2 linked regions of the Homo sapiens genome follow. The main gene of each other region encodes a partner of the protein of the gene in region 2 in a complex. Each region holds a gene or a part of one and is shown on either strand. Other genes may lie near its edges.

What was found.
Region 1: NCF2 (region 2) and CYBA share a complex: the UniProt entries of both Homo sapiens proteins name them as parts of the phagocyte NADPH oxidase complex.

The regions. Positions count from the first base shown.
Region 1 is NC_000016.10:88,648,054-88,654,983, reverse strand, and holds the start of CYBA (cytochrome b-245 light chain), read left to right. Parts: upstream 1-3,930; 5' UTR 3,931-3,970; coding exon 3,971-4,028; intron 4,029-6,869; coding exon 6,870-6,930. Other genes in the region: MVD (diphosphomevalonate decarboxylase), read left to right, coding at 177-292, 1,576-1,684, 2,379-2,459. UniProt on the Homo sapiens protein: Subunit of NADPH oxidase complexes that is required for the NADPH oxidase activity that generates, in various cell types, superoxide from molecular oxygen utilizing NADPH as an electron donor.
Region 2 is NC_000001.11:183,559,452-183,566,475, forward strand, and holds part of NCF2 (neutrophil cytosol factor 2), read right to left. Parts: intron 6,329-7,024; coding exon 6,253-6,328; intron 4,580-6,252; coding exon 4,554-4,579; intron 4,135-4,553; coding exon 3,983-4,134; intron 3,856-3,982; coding exon 3,744-3,855; intron 823-3,743; coding exon 645-822; intron 1-644. UniProt on the Homo sapiens protein: Subunit of the phagocyte NADPH oxidase complex that mediates the transfer of electrons from cytosolic NADPH to O2 to produce the superoxide anion (O2(-)).

The DNA.
Region 1 (6,930 bases), on a different chromosome or scaffold from region 2:
TTCACAGGCAGACGTGTCAAGTACCAGGCACTTGGGGTCACAGCTCCACTCCAGTGTGGCCCTGAGGGCCTAGACTGAGCTCTTGGAGAGCCCAAGGCCGCCTGGCAGACCAGAGGGTTGGGGAGACAAGGGTCAGGCACCACGTGAATAGCCAGGGTGACTGCTGTGGGTTCCAGGTGGCGTACACCTTTGACGCGGGCCCCAATGCCGTGATCTTCACCCTGGACGACACTGTGGCTGAGTTTGTGGCTGCTGTGTGGCACGGCTTTCCCCCAGGCTCGAATGGAGACACGTGAGTGTGGACCCCGCCCCTCCTCCTTTTTGGGAGATGGTGCCAGGAACTCTGGTCGGAAGAGACGGAGGCACCTGAAGGCTGTGGCGCTGAGACAGGGAGTCCCAGGGCAGGCAGCAGTCCCCCGAGTGTGGGAGCCACGGGCAGGGTGTCCCCATAGAGCCATCCCACAGCCCACGTCCACAGGGAAGAAAGAGAGGCCGCTCACGCGTGTGTGAGCAACGCCCAGGGTCTCCCACCTCCTGAGTGACAGCGTCCCCTGCAGCTCGGGACCCCGCAGGCTCTTATTCTATAGAACAGTGGCTTAGGAAACACGCCTGCACTCCCAGATGTGTGCGTAAGTGTCCGACATTTTGAAGGAAAGGAGTCAAAGCCCCTGATTTCCTTCTTACTGAAGCGAGTTAGAGCCAGTCAAGGCGGCCGGGTGTTGACCCCGCCCCGGCAGTTGGGTGTCTTTTCTTGGGTGGGGTCCGGCAGCTGCATCTTGGCGCCACAGAGCCCCCATGTACGCCCTCCTCGGTGCACAGCTTGGCCCTGAACCGCCTCTTCCCCTGCGCTGCTCTGTGGGGGTGCCACAGAGCCCCCATGTACGCCCTCCTCGGTGCACAGCTTGGCCCAGCCTCCTTACGCCCCGGGGCTGTTGATTTCTTCCCTCCCGTGTTTTCATGGTGTCTTATTCTCAATGTGAGAGGCGCCTCCCATTTAAGGGTGTCTGGAAGCGTGTGGGGATGTGCGTCTGTCCCGGGTGGGAGCAATAACACCTTCTAATGGTCAGGGGCCTGCCCTGTGGGGTGGACTCAGACCCACACCCCAGGACTGCCCGCCTGGGAAGCACCAGGCTCGTGGCTGCTGCTCCGGGTGGGGCTTGCAGGCTTCCGCTGTTCTGCAGAACACGGTGACGAACGCACCAGCTTGAATTGGGCGCTTCCCTGAGCTGTTACCCCATGGGGCTTGGCAGCACCCTTGGCCAGATGTGGGTCCAGCCTGGGCATAGCTGTTTACCACATAACCTAAAATTTCCTGTCTCAGCCATTCGAGAGCATATAATCCTGCGGTGTTGAGGACATTCACAGGGTCATGTGAGCACCACCTCAAGCCACCTCCTTAACTTTTTCATCACCCCTAAAAGAAACCTGTCCCCACAGCAGCCACCTGCCGTCTCCCCCTCCCTGAGCCCTGACGGCCAGGAATGCACTTCCCATCTCTGGACTTGCCTGTTGTAGACTGTTGTAGACGCTTAGAGAAACGGATGCATTCACCGTGCCCCTGCCCTGCTTTTCCAGGTTTCTGAAGGGGCTGCAGGTGAGGCCGGCCCCTCTCTCAGCTGAGCTTCAGGCTGCGCTGGCCATGGAGCCGACCCCCGGTGGGGTCAAATACATCATTGTCACTCAGGTGAGGCCTGGGGCTCACCCAGTACCCCGGGGTTTCCTTTCCTGCCAGGGGGGCCCGCCCAGCCCCCAGGGCCCTTAAAGGCTAAGCGCGGCTCCCTGTCCCTACCGTGTCTCAGGCAGGAAGCCAGAACGCCTTTGTCCATTCATTTGCTCTCAAAGTGGACATTACAGGCCACTGGTGATGCTCAGAGCAGCAGGGCTGCGCTGAGGGTGGGAGGGTGAGTCTGACACAGGCTCCCAGGGAGACAGGTGGGGAGTATCAGACCCTTGAATAGGGAGCGCCTGGGGTGGGGGCTGCTGGGGTCCCTGGGACCCCCCCACCCCAACCACCCCAGCAGACCGGAGTTCCTGCCCTCTGACCTGCTCCGAGGGCCAAGCTTGCATCCAGTGATCACGGCCGCCCAAGCCATTGCCGCCACCTTCCTCTCAGGGGCTGCCTGTTCCCAGGCTCTGTGGTTCTCTGTCCCCCCTGTGACAGAAGCAGTGCCCAGGGCAGGGGGCTCGCAGCTGGCAGGGGCGGCTGTGCCTGCAGGAGCTGCGTGTGGGTGTCACCACTCAGGCGCTTTACCTTCTGACCAGGACCCACAGGAAGGGCGGGGGCACACCGCTACCCTCCTGTGTCCGGCCCTACAGATGCTGGGCACAGGATGAGGCGCTGCCATTCCTGGTGACCTGACATGGATTTCTATCCCCAGGTGGGGCCAGGGCCTCAAATCCTGGATGACCCCTGCGCCCACCTCCTGGGTCCTGACGGCCTGCCGAAGCCAGCTGCCTGACTGCCTCAGCAGGGACCGCATGCCGCTTGGAGAAGGGGTGGCCTCGCCGGAGCTAGGGAGCGGATGTGGTGGGCTGGCCGGACTCCTGGGACATGTGGGTGGTGGCTTGACCCCGGGCCCATGGGCAGCTTGCTGTGGGGCAGTGCAGGGAGTCCTGCGGCCGCCCAGGTGTCAGGAGAGGTCCCCGCCGAGTGCTTCAGCTGCCCTAAGCTGCACCAGCGCTTTGCCAAGATGGGATGGGGAGGGGGTATGAGAACTGGCAGAGCCTCGGTGCAGCAGGGCTGAAGGGCTTTCTCACCCCAGCTCTGGCTATGCCCAGTTCTCTGAGAAAGGAGCTCAGTGGGGAGGTGGTCCCTCCAGCGGACCAGGGAAGGGGTCACCGTGCTGGGAGCAGCCTCCTTGGGCCTCAGGAAACCACCAAGTGCCTCGGATGGTGGCTGCCCACGGCGCTTCTGCTGAGACCCTGCCCCCGGCCCAGGTGTCTCGGAGGGTGGCTGCCCACGGCCTGGGTGTGGCTGGAATGGTGGCAGGAGTGGGCACCAGTGCGGCCCCGGTGGCCATGGGGAATAAACCAGCATTGCTGCCTCCGGCCTCCGCCGTTTTTCTGTTTCGTAAACCAGCATCCCGGGGTTCCTGCTCTGAGTGACCCTGGCACCTGTCAGGGAGTCCAGGTGTGCCCCATGAGGGCCTGGGGGAGGGGCAGGCTGGGCAGAGCCACAGAGGGGCTCCCCTCAAACCCCACATTGGCTCAGGTGGGACCCTCAGGAGCAACCCCAGGTCTAAAGTCTTCCCATGGGCGCTGGGCTCACCACCCCCACGCCAGCCCCTGCCTCCCGTACCCAGGCCGGACGTGACGGGGCCGTCCCTGCATTCTGTGCTTTCCCAGTTGTACACATCCTGTCCCCTCCCTCGAGTCTCAGTCACAGTTCAGTGACCTGGTGACGGGAGGCCCCCTGCAGTGTCTGACCCAGGCCACGCCTGTGCCAGCCCAGAGCCAGGGGGAGGAAATGGGGGCTGGGCCTCTGGTCCCCATGGGGAGGCCACCCTTGTCCTTGGTAGCATCAGGGTGCAGAGGTGTTCCCGGGCTGTAGGGGTGACTCCCCCACCCCCCAAGGCTCTGGAGAGGCCGATTTGCTCAGGAAGCCGACCTTCACACCTTGTCCTGCTATTAATAGACGCCTGGTTGACACGGGACCCTCGGTTGGGTCCGGAGCATTGGGCAGGGGCACTTGTCAGTGTTTGAGAGCTGAAGTTTGGGAAGCCCTGGGGAAGCGCAGGAACTCCCCGCCTGGGCTGGGGCTGCCGGGCAGGGCCCCTCCTATGCCTCGGCGTGGCTAGAGAGGGCGGGGGCAGAAGGCTCCGGGACAGCCCTGCACCCTACAGATGCGGGTCTCCGCCCAGCCGCGGTCACCTGGGGGGCTGGGGGCGGGGCCTGGGCGGGGCGGGGTTCGGCCGGGAGCGCAGGGGCGGCAGTGCGCGCCTAGCAGTGTCCCAGCCGGGTTCGTGTCGCCATGGGGCAGATCGAGTGGGCCATGTGGGCCAACGAACAGGCGCTGGCGTCCGGCCTGAGTGAGTGCACGTCAGGGACGGTGGAGGCTGCAGCCTGGAGGGGTGTCCCAAGACCCCAGCCGGGACCTCGGGCTACTTACAGGGTGGGGAAGTGGGGCGCCAGGCGGGCCAGGCCGGGCCGGGGTCAGGCCAGGAGGGTGCGGGGAACGGGGGCGGGACCCTCAGGCCGCGGGCTGGAAGGAGGAGTTCTGAGACCCCCAGTAATTCCCTTGCAGACCCTGCGGAGCGCGGCGCCCCTCCCCCATTCCCTTCTCTCGGTCCCCCGACTCCGCGAAGGAGGAAGTTGCAGCGCAGGGGAAGAGGCGGTTCAGCCCCGGTGGTTTCCGGGGTCACCGCCCCGAAGCCCCCGAGTGGGGGCTCCGGCCTGGGCATCGGGAGAAGCTCCCCTGCCCCTCGGTAGCCAGCTGGCCTGGAGGTCGCTCTCCCTGGGCTTGGGGTGGGGAATGGGCTCATGCCCTGGGGCTCAGCCCTTCTCATCTGGAGTCTGCGCTGGAGGCGGTCTGAGATTTCACAAGGCGCCGAAACCACCCAGTGACGGCCCTGCCCAGCCCAGCTGCACAGGCACTTTGCTCTTGGGGTGGGATGGCACAGCCCCCAGTCACCCTCCTGTGCATTTGCTCAGAGGTTCTGGTGAGGGCAGCGGACTCCATTTGGAAATGGACCCTCTCGGGACCAGGGCCAGGGAGTGTCTGGCCCAGCACGGGTGAGGCTGGGCTCAGGCGAGGTCTGAGGGCAGAGGCACCACTGCAGCAGCTCCAGGAAGGACCTGCACCGGGGGAGGAGTGCCTGGGAAGGGCCTGGGGGCTGAGGGTGAGGAGGAGGGGCCCGCTGCCACCACTCCCCTGGGGCTCTGAGCGCCCTCCCTGTTGTCTGGAGGGTGCGTGGCAGCTGGAGTGGGAGCAGAGACCTCAGGGTGGGAGGGCTGGAGGACGGGGCCCTGCAGCCTGTCCTGTGCCCAGGAAAGTGACCGCCTGCTTCGAGTCAGCGGCCAAGAAGTCGGTGGGTCAGTTCAGACAGCTCTCCCCAGAGCTGCCCCGTGAGACTCACCCTGCCTGCCCCGCACTCCCTACAGGAAGTAGACGGACTGAGGGCACCCAGCTGGGAGCCAGGAGACCTGGGCTCTAGTCTGGCCTCCTGCTGAAACCCTCCAGGGGCTCCTGGCCCGAAGAGTTAGAGCCAGACTGGACGCCCTGCACTGCCCGCCCTGGCCTCCCGGCTCTCCGGCCCCCTCCTCCAGCTGCCGTGCTTCCTTTCTGTTCCTAGATCTCCTGAGCGTGCCCCAGGGCCTCGGCACAAGCTGCTGCTTCTGCAGAGCCTCATGGCTGTCTCATTTATTTCTCAATTCAAATGCCACCTGCCTGGGGAGGTCCTTCCAGACCGTGCAGCCCCAGGAGGCAGCTGGCCCGGAGACAGCAGGGCCTTGACAAAGAGTCCCCCCTGTACACAGCAGGTGCTCTGTAAATGTGGCTGGGTGCCAGAATACGTCCTCAGACCTCCCTGGTGGCACCAGCGGCAGCTTTGCACCCTCTTTCGGATGGCAGGCTCGGGACCAGGACGGTCCCCAAAGATGCATGGACAATTGGCTGAGTAGACTCAAGGACACTGCCCTCCCCTCCTCCGACGCAGACAGACAAACCCAGAGAGTTAATGTGTAGCTGGGCTCAAACCAAGGATAGGAAATCTTCCAACAAGACCATGTGGAGACAAAAACAGAATGGCTGGCAGGGCAAGGTGGCTACACCTGTAATCCTAGCACTTTGGGAGGCCAAGGCGGGCGGATCACGAGGTCAGGAGATCGAGACCATCCTGGCTAACACAGTGAAACCCCGTCTCTACTAAAAATACAAAAAATTAGCCGGGTATGGTGGCAGGCGCGCATAGTCCCAGCTACTCGGGAGGCTGAGGCAGGAGAATCGCTTCAACCTGGGAGGTGGAGGTTGTAGTGAGCTGAGATCACGCCACGGAACTCCAGCCTGGGTGACAGGGCAAGACTCTGTCTCCAAAAAAAAAAAAAAAAAGAAATAAAATAGTAGGAAGGACCAGGCGCCGTGGCTCATGCCTGTAATCCCAACACTCTGGGAGGCCAAGGCGGGCGGATTCCCTGAGGTCAGGAGTTCGAGACCAGCCTGGCCAATGTGGTGAAAACCCTGTCTCTAATAAAAATGTAAAAATTAGCTGGGCATGGTGGCGGGCGCCTGTAGTCCCAGCTACTCAGGAGGCTGAGGCAGGAGAATTGCTTGAACCCTGGAGGCGGAGGTAGCAGTGAGTCGAGATCGCGCCACTGCACTCCAGCCTGGGTGACAGAGCAAGACTCCGTCTCGAAAAAAAAAAAAAACAGTAAGGGGGAATATTGGACAATACCCCCCCAAAAATGTGCAGAAATAGCCATATCAGACGAAACCGAAATTAAGGCAAAACCGCTGACGGGTTAAGAGGAACTCCGTATCGGGGGGAAAAAGACACTCCCCCAAGAAGATGCAGAAACCACACTCGGCCTGTTAGCTTTCAGTGCATCAAACAAAGACTCATGGTGACAAGGGGGTCCATTTGGGGGTCCCAGAGCCCACTGGGGCCTGCAGGTCGGGCTGTCCTTGGCCACTCCTGGGACCCAGAGCCCGGGCATGTCCAGCACCCCCTCCGCCAGCCCGTGCGCCACAGGCTCTGCTCTTCACCAGTGCAGAGGGGTGCCTCCTGGGGGTGTCCCCGACCCTGTCACTGTGCTGTGGGGATGGGTAGGGGGCAGCTCTGGGTGGCCTGGTGGCCCACAGTAGGTAGAGAAGGGGGGTGGCCCAGGCCCCCGGGACGGGAGCCCCACAGTGCCTGACCCACTTCTCCCCGCAGTCCTCATCACCGGGGGCATCGTGGCCACAGCTGGGCGCTTCACCCAGTGGTACTTTGGTGC
Region 2 (7,024 bases):
TTTGCAGAAGGTCATACAGCTTGATGCAAAGGCAAAGTGATTCCAGCCCAATTTGTTACCTCTGGGAATGAGAATCCATGGTTTCCAAAGCATACTCCTCTTTAATAATCAAGATGTTTATCGCCGGCCAGGTGCGGTGGCTCATGCCTGTAATCTCAGTACTTTAGGAGGCCGAGGCAGTTGGATCACTTGAGGCCAGGAGTTTGAGACCAGCCTGGTCAACATGGCAAAACCCCATCTCTACTAAATACACAAAAATTAGCTAGGCATGGTGGTGGGCGCCTGTAATCCTAGCTACTCAGGAGGCTGAGGCAGGAGAATTGCTTGAACCCAGGAGGGGGAGGTTGCAGTGAGCCGAGATTGTGCCACTGCACTCCAGCCTGGGCAACAGAGGGGGACTCTGTCTCAAAAACAAAAACAAAAACAAAACAACTCAGCTTCTTGTTGCTTTCCTGGCTACTAGAGCAATAGACAGGGAAAGTCTGAGTGCTCAACTTTGCTCCCTCCAGCTAGATGCTAGGAAGGGGGTTGAAAACACTGGCTAAAGTTTTGTTTGTAGATTATTGATATTTTCTTCTCTCTGCCCTTGACCTTGTTTCTGCTAACATGTAAATTTGTTTCTATAGTCTTGGAGTAGCACTTACCCTTTGATAACACCAGGATTATATCCCCTTCCTGAAACTCCAGGTCCTCTGGTTGGGTAGCCTCATAACTGAAGAGTGCCTCCACTTGGCTGCCTTTCTTAAGCTGAGGTTCTGTTGTCTGGTTATTAGCATCAGCTTTTTCACTTTCCTTGGGTTCATCTGGAAAGCCTTGGTCACCCTGAAATAATAAAGGGCCTGTTAATTTTCCCAATTTCCTGCCAAGTGAACACTGAACATCACTAAAGGAAACAGCGAAATGTCAAAGTAGAACCTGGGATATAAACTCATAAAGTTTGTGATCAGTGCCTTGTGTAGAGCTTATATGCTCTTTATGAATACTGGATGGTTGGGTAAATCAGTCCCCAACCTTTTTGGCACGAGGGACCAGTTTCATGGAAGACAGTTTTTAGATGAATGGTGGTGGGTGGTGGGTTGGGGGGTGGTTTCAGGATAAAATTGTTCCACCTCAGATCGTCAGGCATTAGATTCTCATAAAGAGCATGCGACCTAGATCCCTTGCATGCACAGTTCACAATAGGGTTCACACTCCTATGAGAATCTAATGCTGCTGCTGATCTGACAGGAGGCAGAGCTCAGGCCAGTATACCTGCAGCTCACCTGCTGTGCAGCCCTGTGCTGGCCCGTGGCCTGGAGGTTGGGGACCCCTGGGATAAATGAAACCAAAAGGTCTGCAAAATCATATACAGTCTTAAAATATCTTACTGAAACCTTACAATAATCTTGAGACAGGTAGAATGGGCATTATTATTTCTTTACAGATGGGGACAGAGCCCTAAGTCAAAACTGGCTTTCTTAGCATCAACTCTAACAGCAACACTAGGGACCTTGTTAGAAATGCAGACTTTCAACTCCATCCCAAAACTACTAAATCAGAAACTCCCTGAAGGTGAATCCTGCAATCTGTATTTTAAGTCCTCTAGGGAATTCTGATACTTGCTAAAGTTCAAAAACCACTGCACAATGCCATACTTGTTTTATCTGTAACAACATTTCTTATACATCTTAGACTTATGATCTTAGACTTCTTCCACATTATTGTCACTTTTGCTTCACAAATGAAGGAGAAGGATGCGGTTTCTACAGATGTGAATCATAGAATTTAACAAATCAACATTAGAAATGCTGCTAGGCTTGTATGTACCGAGCATTATAAGTTCTAGCTTCTTAATGTTGTTTGTTGAACGTTGGTATATTTTTATTGAGAGGCAATACAATGAGGTGGAAATGGCCCTAGAGAGTCCACAGAGAAAGGTTTGTATCCCACCTCCACTGCTTACCAGCTCTGTGTCCCTAAGCAAGCAGTGTAACTTCTCAGAACCTCAGTTACCTCACCTGAAATTGAGGCTAGAAGAATTCAATGAGATGACATACAATAATAGTAGTTGACATTTATTGAACACTTACTCTGTGGCAGTACTCTTCTAAATATGTATAAATATTTAGACTTGGTTAATGGTAAGTGTTCCTGCATAGAGTAGATGCTTAATAAATGTTAGTTCATTTTATTTTTCTTTCTTTTCTTTTCTTTTTTTTTTGTATTTTTAGTACAGATGGGGTTTCACCATGTTGGCCAGGCTGGTCTTAAACTCCTGACCTCAGGTGATCTGGCCCATCTCGGCCTCCCAAAGTGCTAGGATTTCAGGCATAAACCATACCAGGCCTCTTTTTTTTTTTTTTTTTTTTTTTTTTTTTTTTTTTTTTGAGGCAGAATCTCTCTGTCACCCAGACTGGAGTGCAGTGGTATGATATCAGCTCACTGTAACCTCCGCCTCCTGGGTTCAAGCAATTCTGCCTCAGCCTCCCAAGTAGCTGGGACTACAGGTGCACACCACCACACCCAGCTAATTTTTGTATTTTCAGTAGAGATGGGGTTTCACCATGTTGCCTCAGCCTCCCAAAGTGTTGGAATTACAGGCATGAGCCACTGCGCCTGGTTTTCTTTCTCCTAGTAAGTGAAAGCCTGCTTTGTTGCCTCCAAAAGTAATGGATAGTGATAAAGAACATTCAACAGTGACTCCTGAGCCTGGATTAAATTGCAAAAGATTGTGGGGAGTTGTAAGAGGGTTGGCTATGTGCAGCCACCAAATAGATTGAAGCTGCTGTCAAAGGAAAAAATTTTAATTAAAAAAAAGTTTAAGTGAAGTAGTTCACATTTAGAGCAGAACTCCTTCTAGGAAGAATCTTTTAAAAAAGATGCTGAAGGGGTTAGTCCAAAGACAGACAGCTGGAAAACCTAGAGTGACTTTTCAGACTTCCAAGAGACCCCTTACACTCACACTCACTCTTACCCCCAGGATCCTGGGGCCTTTTGTCTCAGCCAGAGACACCAGGGAGTCTCATCCCCAGTGGCTGTATTTCCTGAAGGCAATTTTCTGAACGGGGAAGATACCTTAAACAGCTTTATACACTGCCCTTTTCTAGGCTCATTCTCTTTCACTCTTCTTCTCCCAGCTCATGTCTGTAATCCCAGCACTTTGGGAGGCCGAGGCAGGTGGATCACAAGGTCAGGAGTTCAAAACCAGCCTGGCCAAGATGGTGAAACCCCGTCTCTACTAAAAATACAAAAATTAGCTGGGTGCAGTGGCAGGTGCCTGTAATCCCAGCTACTCAGGAGGCTGAGGCAGGAGAATTTCTTGAACCTGGGCGGCAGAGGTTTCAGTGAGCCAAGATCACACCCAGCTTGGGCGACAGAGTGAGACTCCATCTCAAAAAAAAAAAAAAAAGGTGAAGAATGGCTATGAGCTGAGCCTTAAGCTATGATATGACTTCATTCCAACCTTGCTTGACAGTAATGGATGGGATGTTTGACACAGTCAGGCAGGGAGCTGATGGAGGGGCAGGAGGCTTTCTGTGAGCTCCTGCCCTGCTGGGCCTGCTGTTCTCTTGTGGGAAACTCTCTCCCTGCTGCAAATGGGGTGAGGATGCAGGTAAAAGGGAGGCAGAGCTGTGACTTATTACACACCATATCCCCAACACCACATATAGTGCCTAGTACACAGAAGGTGCTTGATAAATTTCAAATTGTTGAGGAAGTGGCTCAGTGGAAATGTAACTTTAGATGCCCCTCATTGCACTCACCACTGTGTTCTCACACCACAGAGTCAGGCAGTAGTTTTTCACCTGGCCCCAGGCATCCTTCATGCTGTCTTCTGAAAGGGGCACCAGCTCATTGCTGTCCCGAGGCCGATAGCTGGGTGGGGATAATGAGTAAGAATCCAGTCAAAGAACATCATCACAAAAACCATCCTCCTCTTCCCTCCTCCAGGCCAGCACAAGGTTCCCACTGTACCCCTCACAGCTGCCTGCATGGAGCTCACCTCAGCTTAGTGTGTTCCAGCCGGAGCTCCAGTTTCTTAGACACCATGTCCCGGACCTGGCTGTAGGGGAGCCCGGGCTGAGTCTTCATGACTACCGTGTACTTGTAGTGCACCTTGAGTGTGTAGGGCATGGGAACACTGAGCTTCACTTCCTGAGTGGGGAGGAAACAAAGGGAACTCCTGAGTGTCTGAGGCTTTCTCTCAACATCCTGGATCACCGCAGTTTCGTGATTTGGCACAGGGGGTACCCAATACAGCAGGGGAGAGGCCAGTAAGTAACTGGTTTCACAGTAGCCTAAAAGGCCTTCAGAGGTCCTTTAGCCCAACCCTTGCTTGGACAGGAATTCCTACTGAGTAAGATCTGGCCCACTAGCTTGGGTAGTAGGAAGTGTGTGCATGATAGTGGAGGAGGCTATTAAGAAGGTCCCTAGCTCATGGACTCTGTAAGGTAGCAACTGGTTCGACCCTCCCTTTGGGGCTCTTCCTATAATCCAGACAGACATGTCTGTGGTTGATAGCCCAAGCTATCCCATCTTCTACCACTTGAAACAGTATGAGGGAAAAATGTTACCTTAGGCTCTTCTTTTTGTTTCTGGCCTGAATGGAAAAAGTAGGGAGTAAAACAAAAGAAGATGGTGAATGAACATCCTTGGCCAGCCCCTGCCACACACAGATGAAACCTCTTCAAATAGGGCCCCCAACCTCTTACCCTTTAATTTGTGGGGCAATTATTAACCTTAGTAAACTGTGGGGAAAATCTCGCCCTGGGGAAGCATGAAGGTCATGAACACATGAACAAACTCAGTCTCTGCTTCTAGGGAGCCTATAGGTAATTACCAAAGGACCAGCATATCCTCACCAACCCACAAGGTTAGCAGGGATCCCAAAGGTCAATTAAGCCCACGGGATCCAAAGCAATGAAAATCGGAGTGCAAGGTGAGCCAGAGGCCACAGGAAGAAGTATTAGAACCACTGATCCTCACCTTATTCTTTATTTTTGTGTATGTTTCCTAAAGTTTATTAATTTAATCTAATCTATTAATCAAGCAATCTAATATTAATCTAATTTATGTAAGAGTAGCATGCATAAAGATATTTACTATAGGGGGTACATGATCAGAGAAGGCCACTGATCTCAAACCTAGCTGATCATTAGAATCACATGGGAAGTTTTTTTCTAAAATACAAATTCCCGAGCCCCATTCCAGTCCTAAAATATCAGAGCCAGTAGCCTAGGACTCTGTATTCACAAAATCATCCTAGGTTTATATGTGATCCTTGATGAGCCTCTAGACAAAAGATAACAACAAAAAACCTGTCAAGGACATTGAGCAGGAGCAACGGGAGAAATTTGAATATGGAATATACATTATATAATACTATCATATGAATGTTTAGTGTCCTAGATACCATGATTCTATTGTGATTATGCAGGAGACTGCGTTTTTGCAGCTGTGTAGGGTGAAGTGTCACGAGTCTGTAACTTTTCAACTGGCTCGGGGGAGAAAAATAGAATGGAGCAGGGCGAGTTCATGGTGCAAAATGTTAACAATTGGTGAGTTTAAGTGAAAGATATTCTGATGTTTATTGTATTCTACTGTCAGCTTTTCTGTAGGTTGGACATTTTTCAAAATAAAAATGGGGGAAGGGACATCCCGAGTGATTCTGATGATCAGGCGCGTGTGGCAATCATTGATCTAGAATCTGGCCAACCACTCACTCTGCGTCTCTACCAAGCGCTTATCCAGAATCTGCTTCAAGTGCACTTCCCAAGACAGCCCTCTCCACACTAGGAAACAGCCTTTCAGAGAGAACATTTCCATTTCACATCTGCCCATTGGTTCTTTGTTCATCCTCAGGGCTCCACAGAGCAATTTCTTTTCCAGATACAGTGCCTCAGACATTTGAAAACAGCCACTCCATGCCCCTCAGAGATAAGCAGGTATAGTTACTTCAACTTTTCTTCCTGAGACATCGTTTCCCTACCTAATGATCAAGGGGTTTGGTGACTACGTGAGTCACTCAGGAACCAGCTGCATTCACCCAAGCCCCGTGAGTGTTCTGCAGAAGGCAGGGAGAGAGGGCACTGATTTCATGTTTGGGGTGGGTGGTGCAGGAAAGGGGGATTCTGGGGCTGCGTGGTCATTAGCTGAGTGACATGTTGGGAGAAGAAGAAACCAGAATTTCCTGGAAGGCAGGGAGAGGAACTCAGGAAGCAGCCTGGCATGCTGCTGCACCCAGACCTAGGCTGTGGCTCCAGGACCACTCACCTGGTGACAGCTGGGGTCTTCCAGGGGCTTTGGAACTAGGAGGAGCTGGGATGTCGGACTGCGGAGAGCTTTCCTCCTGAAGGCAACAGGGAGCGACGGTCAGAACCTTCATTCAAAGTTCCCAGGCAGGGGTGGATGTGGGGAAACACCCCTACAGAGACCCCATGTAAAGGAGCCACATGCAGATAACGTCCTAAAAGTTGGAATGGTAGTGACATTTGGGGAAGACGAAGGAAATGTTGGCCAAAAGAGGAGGTGGAGTTGGCCTGATGAAAATGAAAATCACAGTAGAAAGAAGAATCCTAACCCGCTAAAACGCCCTTGCCGCTTTAGCAACTCTTTCAGCCATATTGGAAATCCACTGGCCGTGGGGCAGGACTGAGCTCTTGTCTCCACTGCAGAGGGCATTGAGAAAGGAAAAATTCCACTTCTCATTTGCAAGGCATTTGAAGCTTTTCAAAGCATTTGGATATGGTGACTGACCAGGGAGGGCTGAGCTCATATACAACTGGTTGCACAGTCTAGAGACAGACAGTCTCCACTGCCATTGAGTCACTTACAGGGATGCTCAGATCTGACAAAGACAGCTCTCTAGGCCTGGCAGAAGGACAGACTTTTGAAGTGTGAGGGAGGGAGTAGCAGCAGTTTAGAAGCAGTGGCTGGCAAGGCCCACTCTGATTCAAAGCTCTAAGGCAGATCTCATTTTATTATTTTTATTTGTATAGAGGTGGCATCTCTCTATTTTGCCCAGGCTGGTCTCGAACTCCTGAGT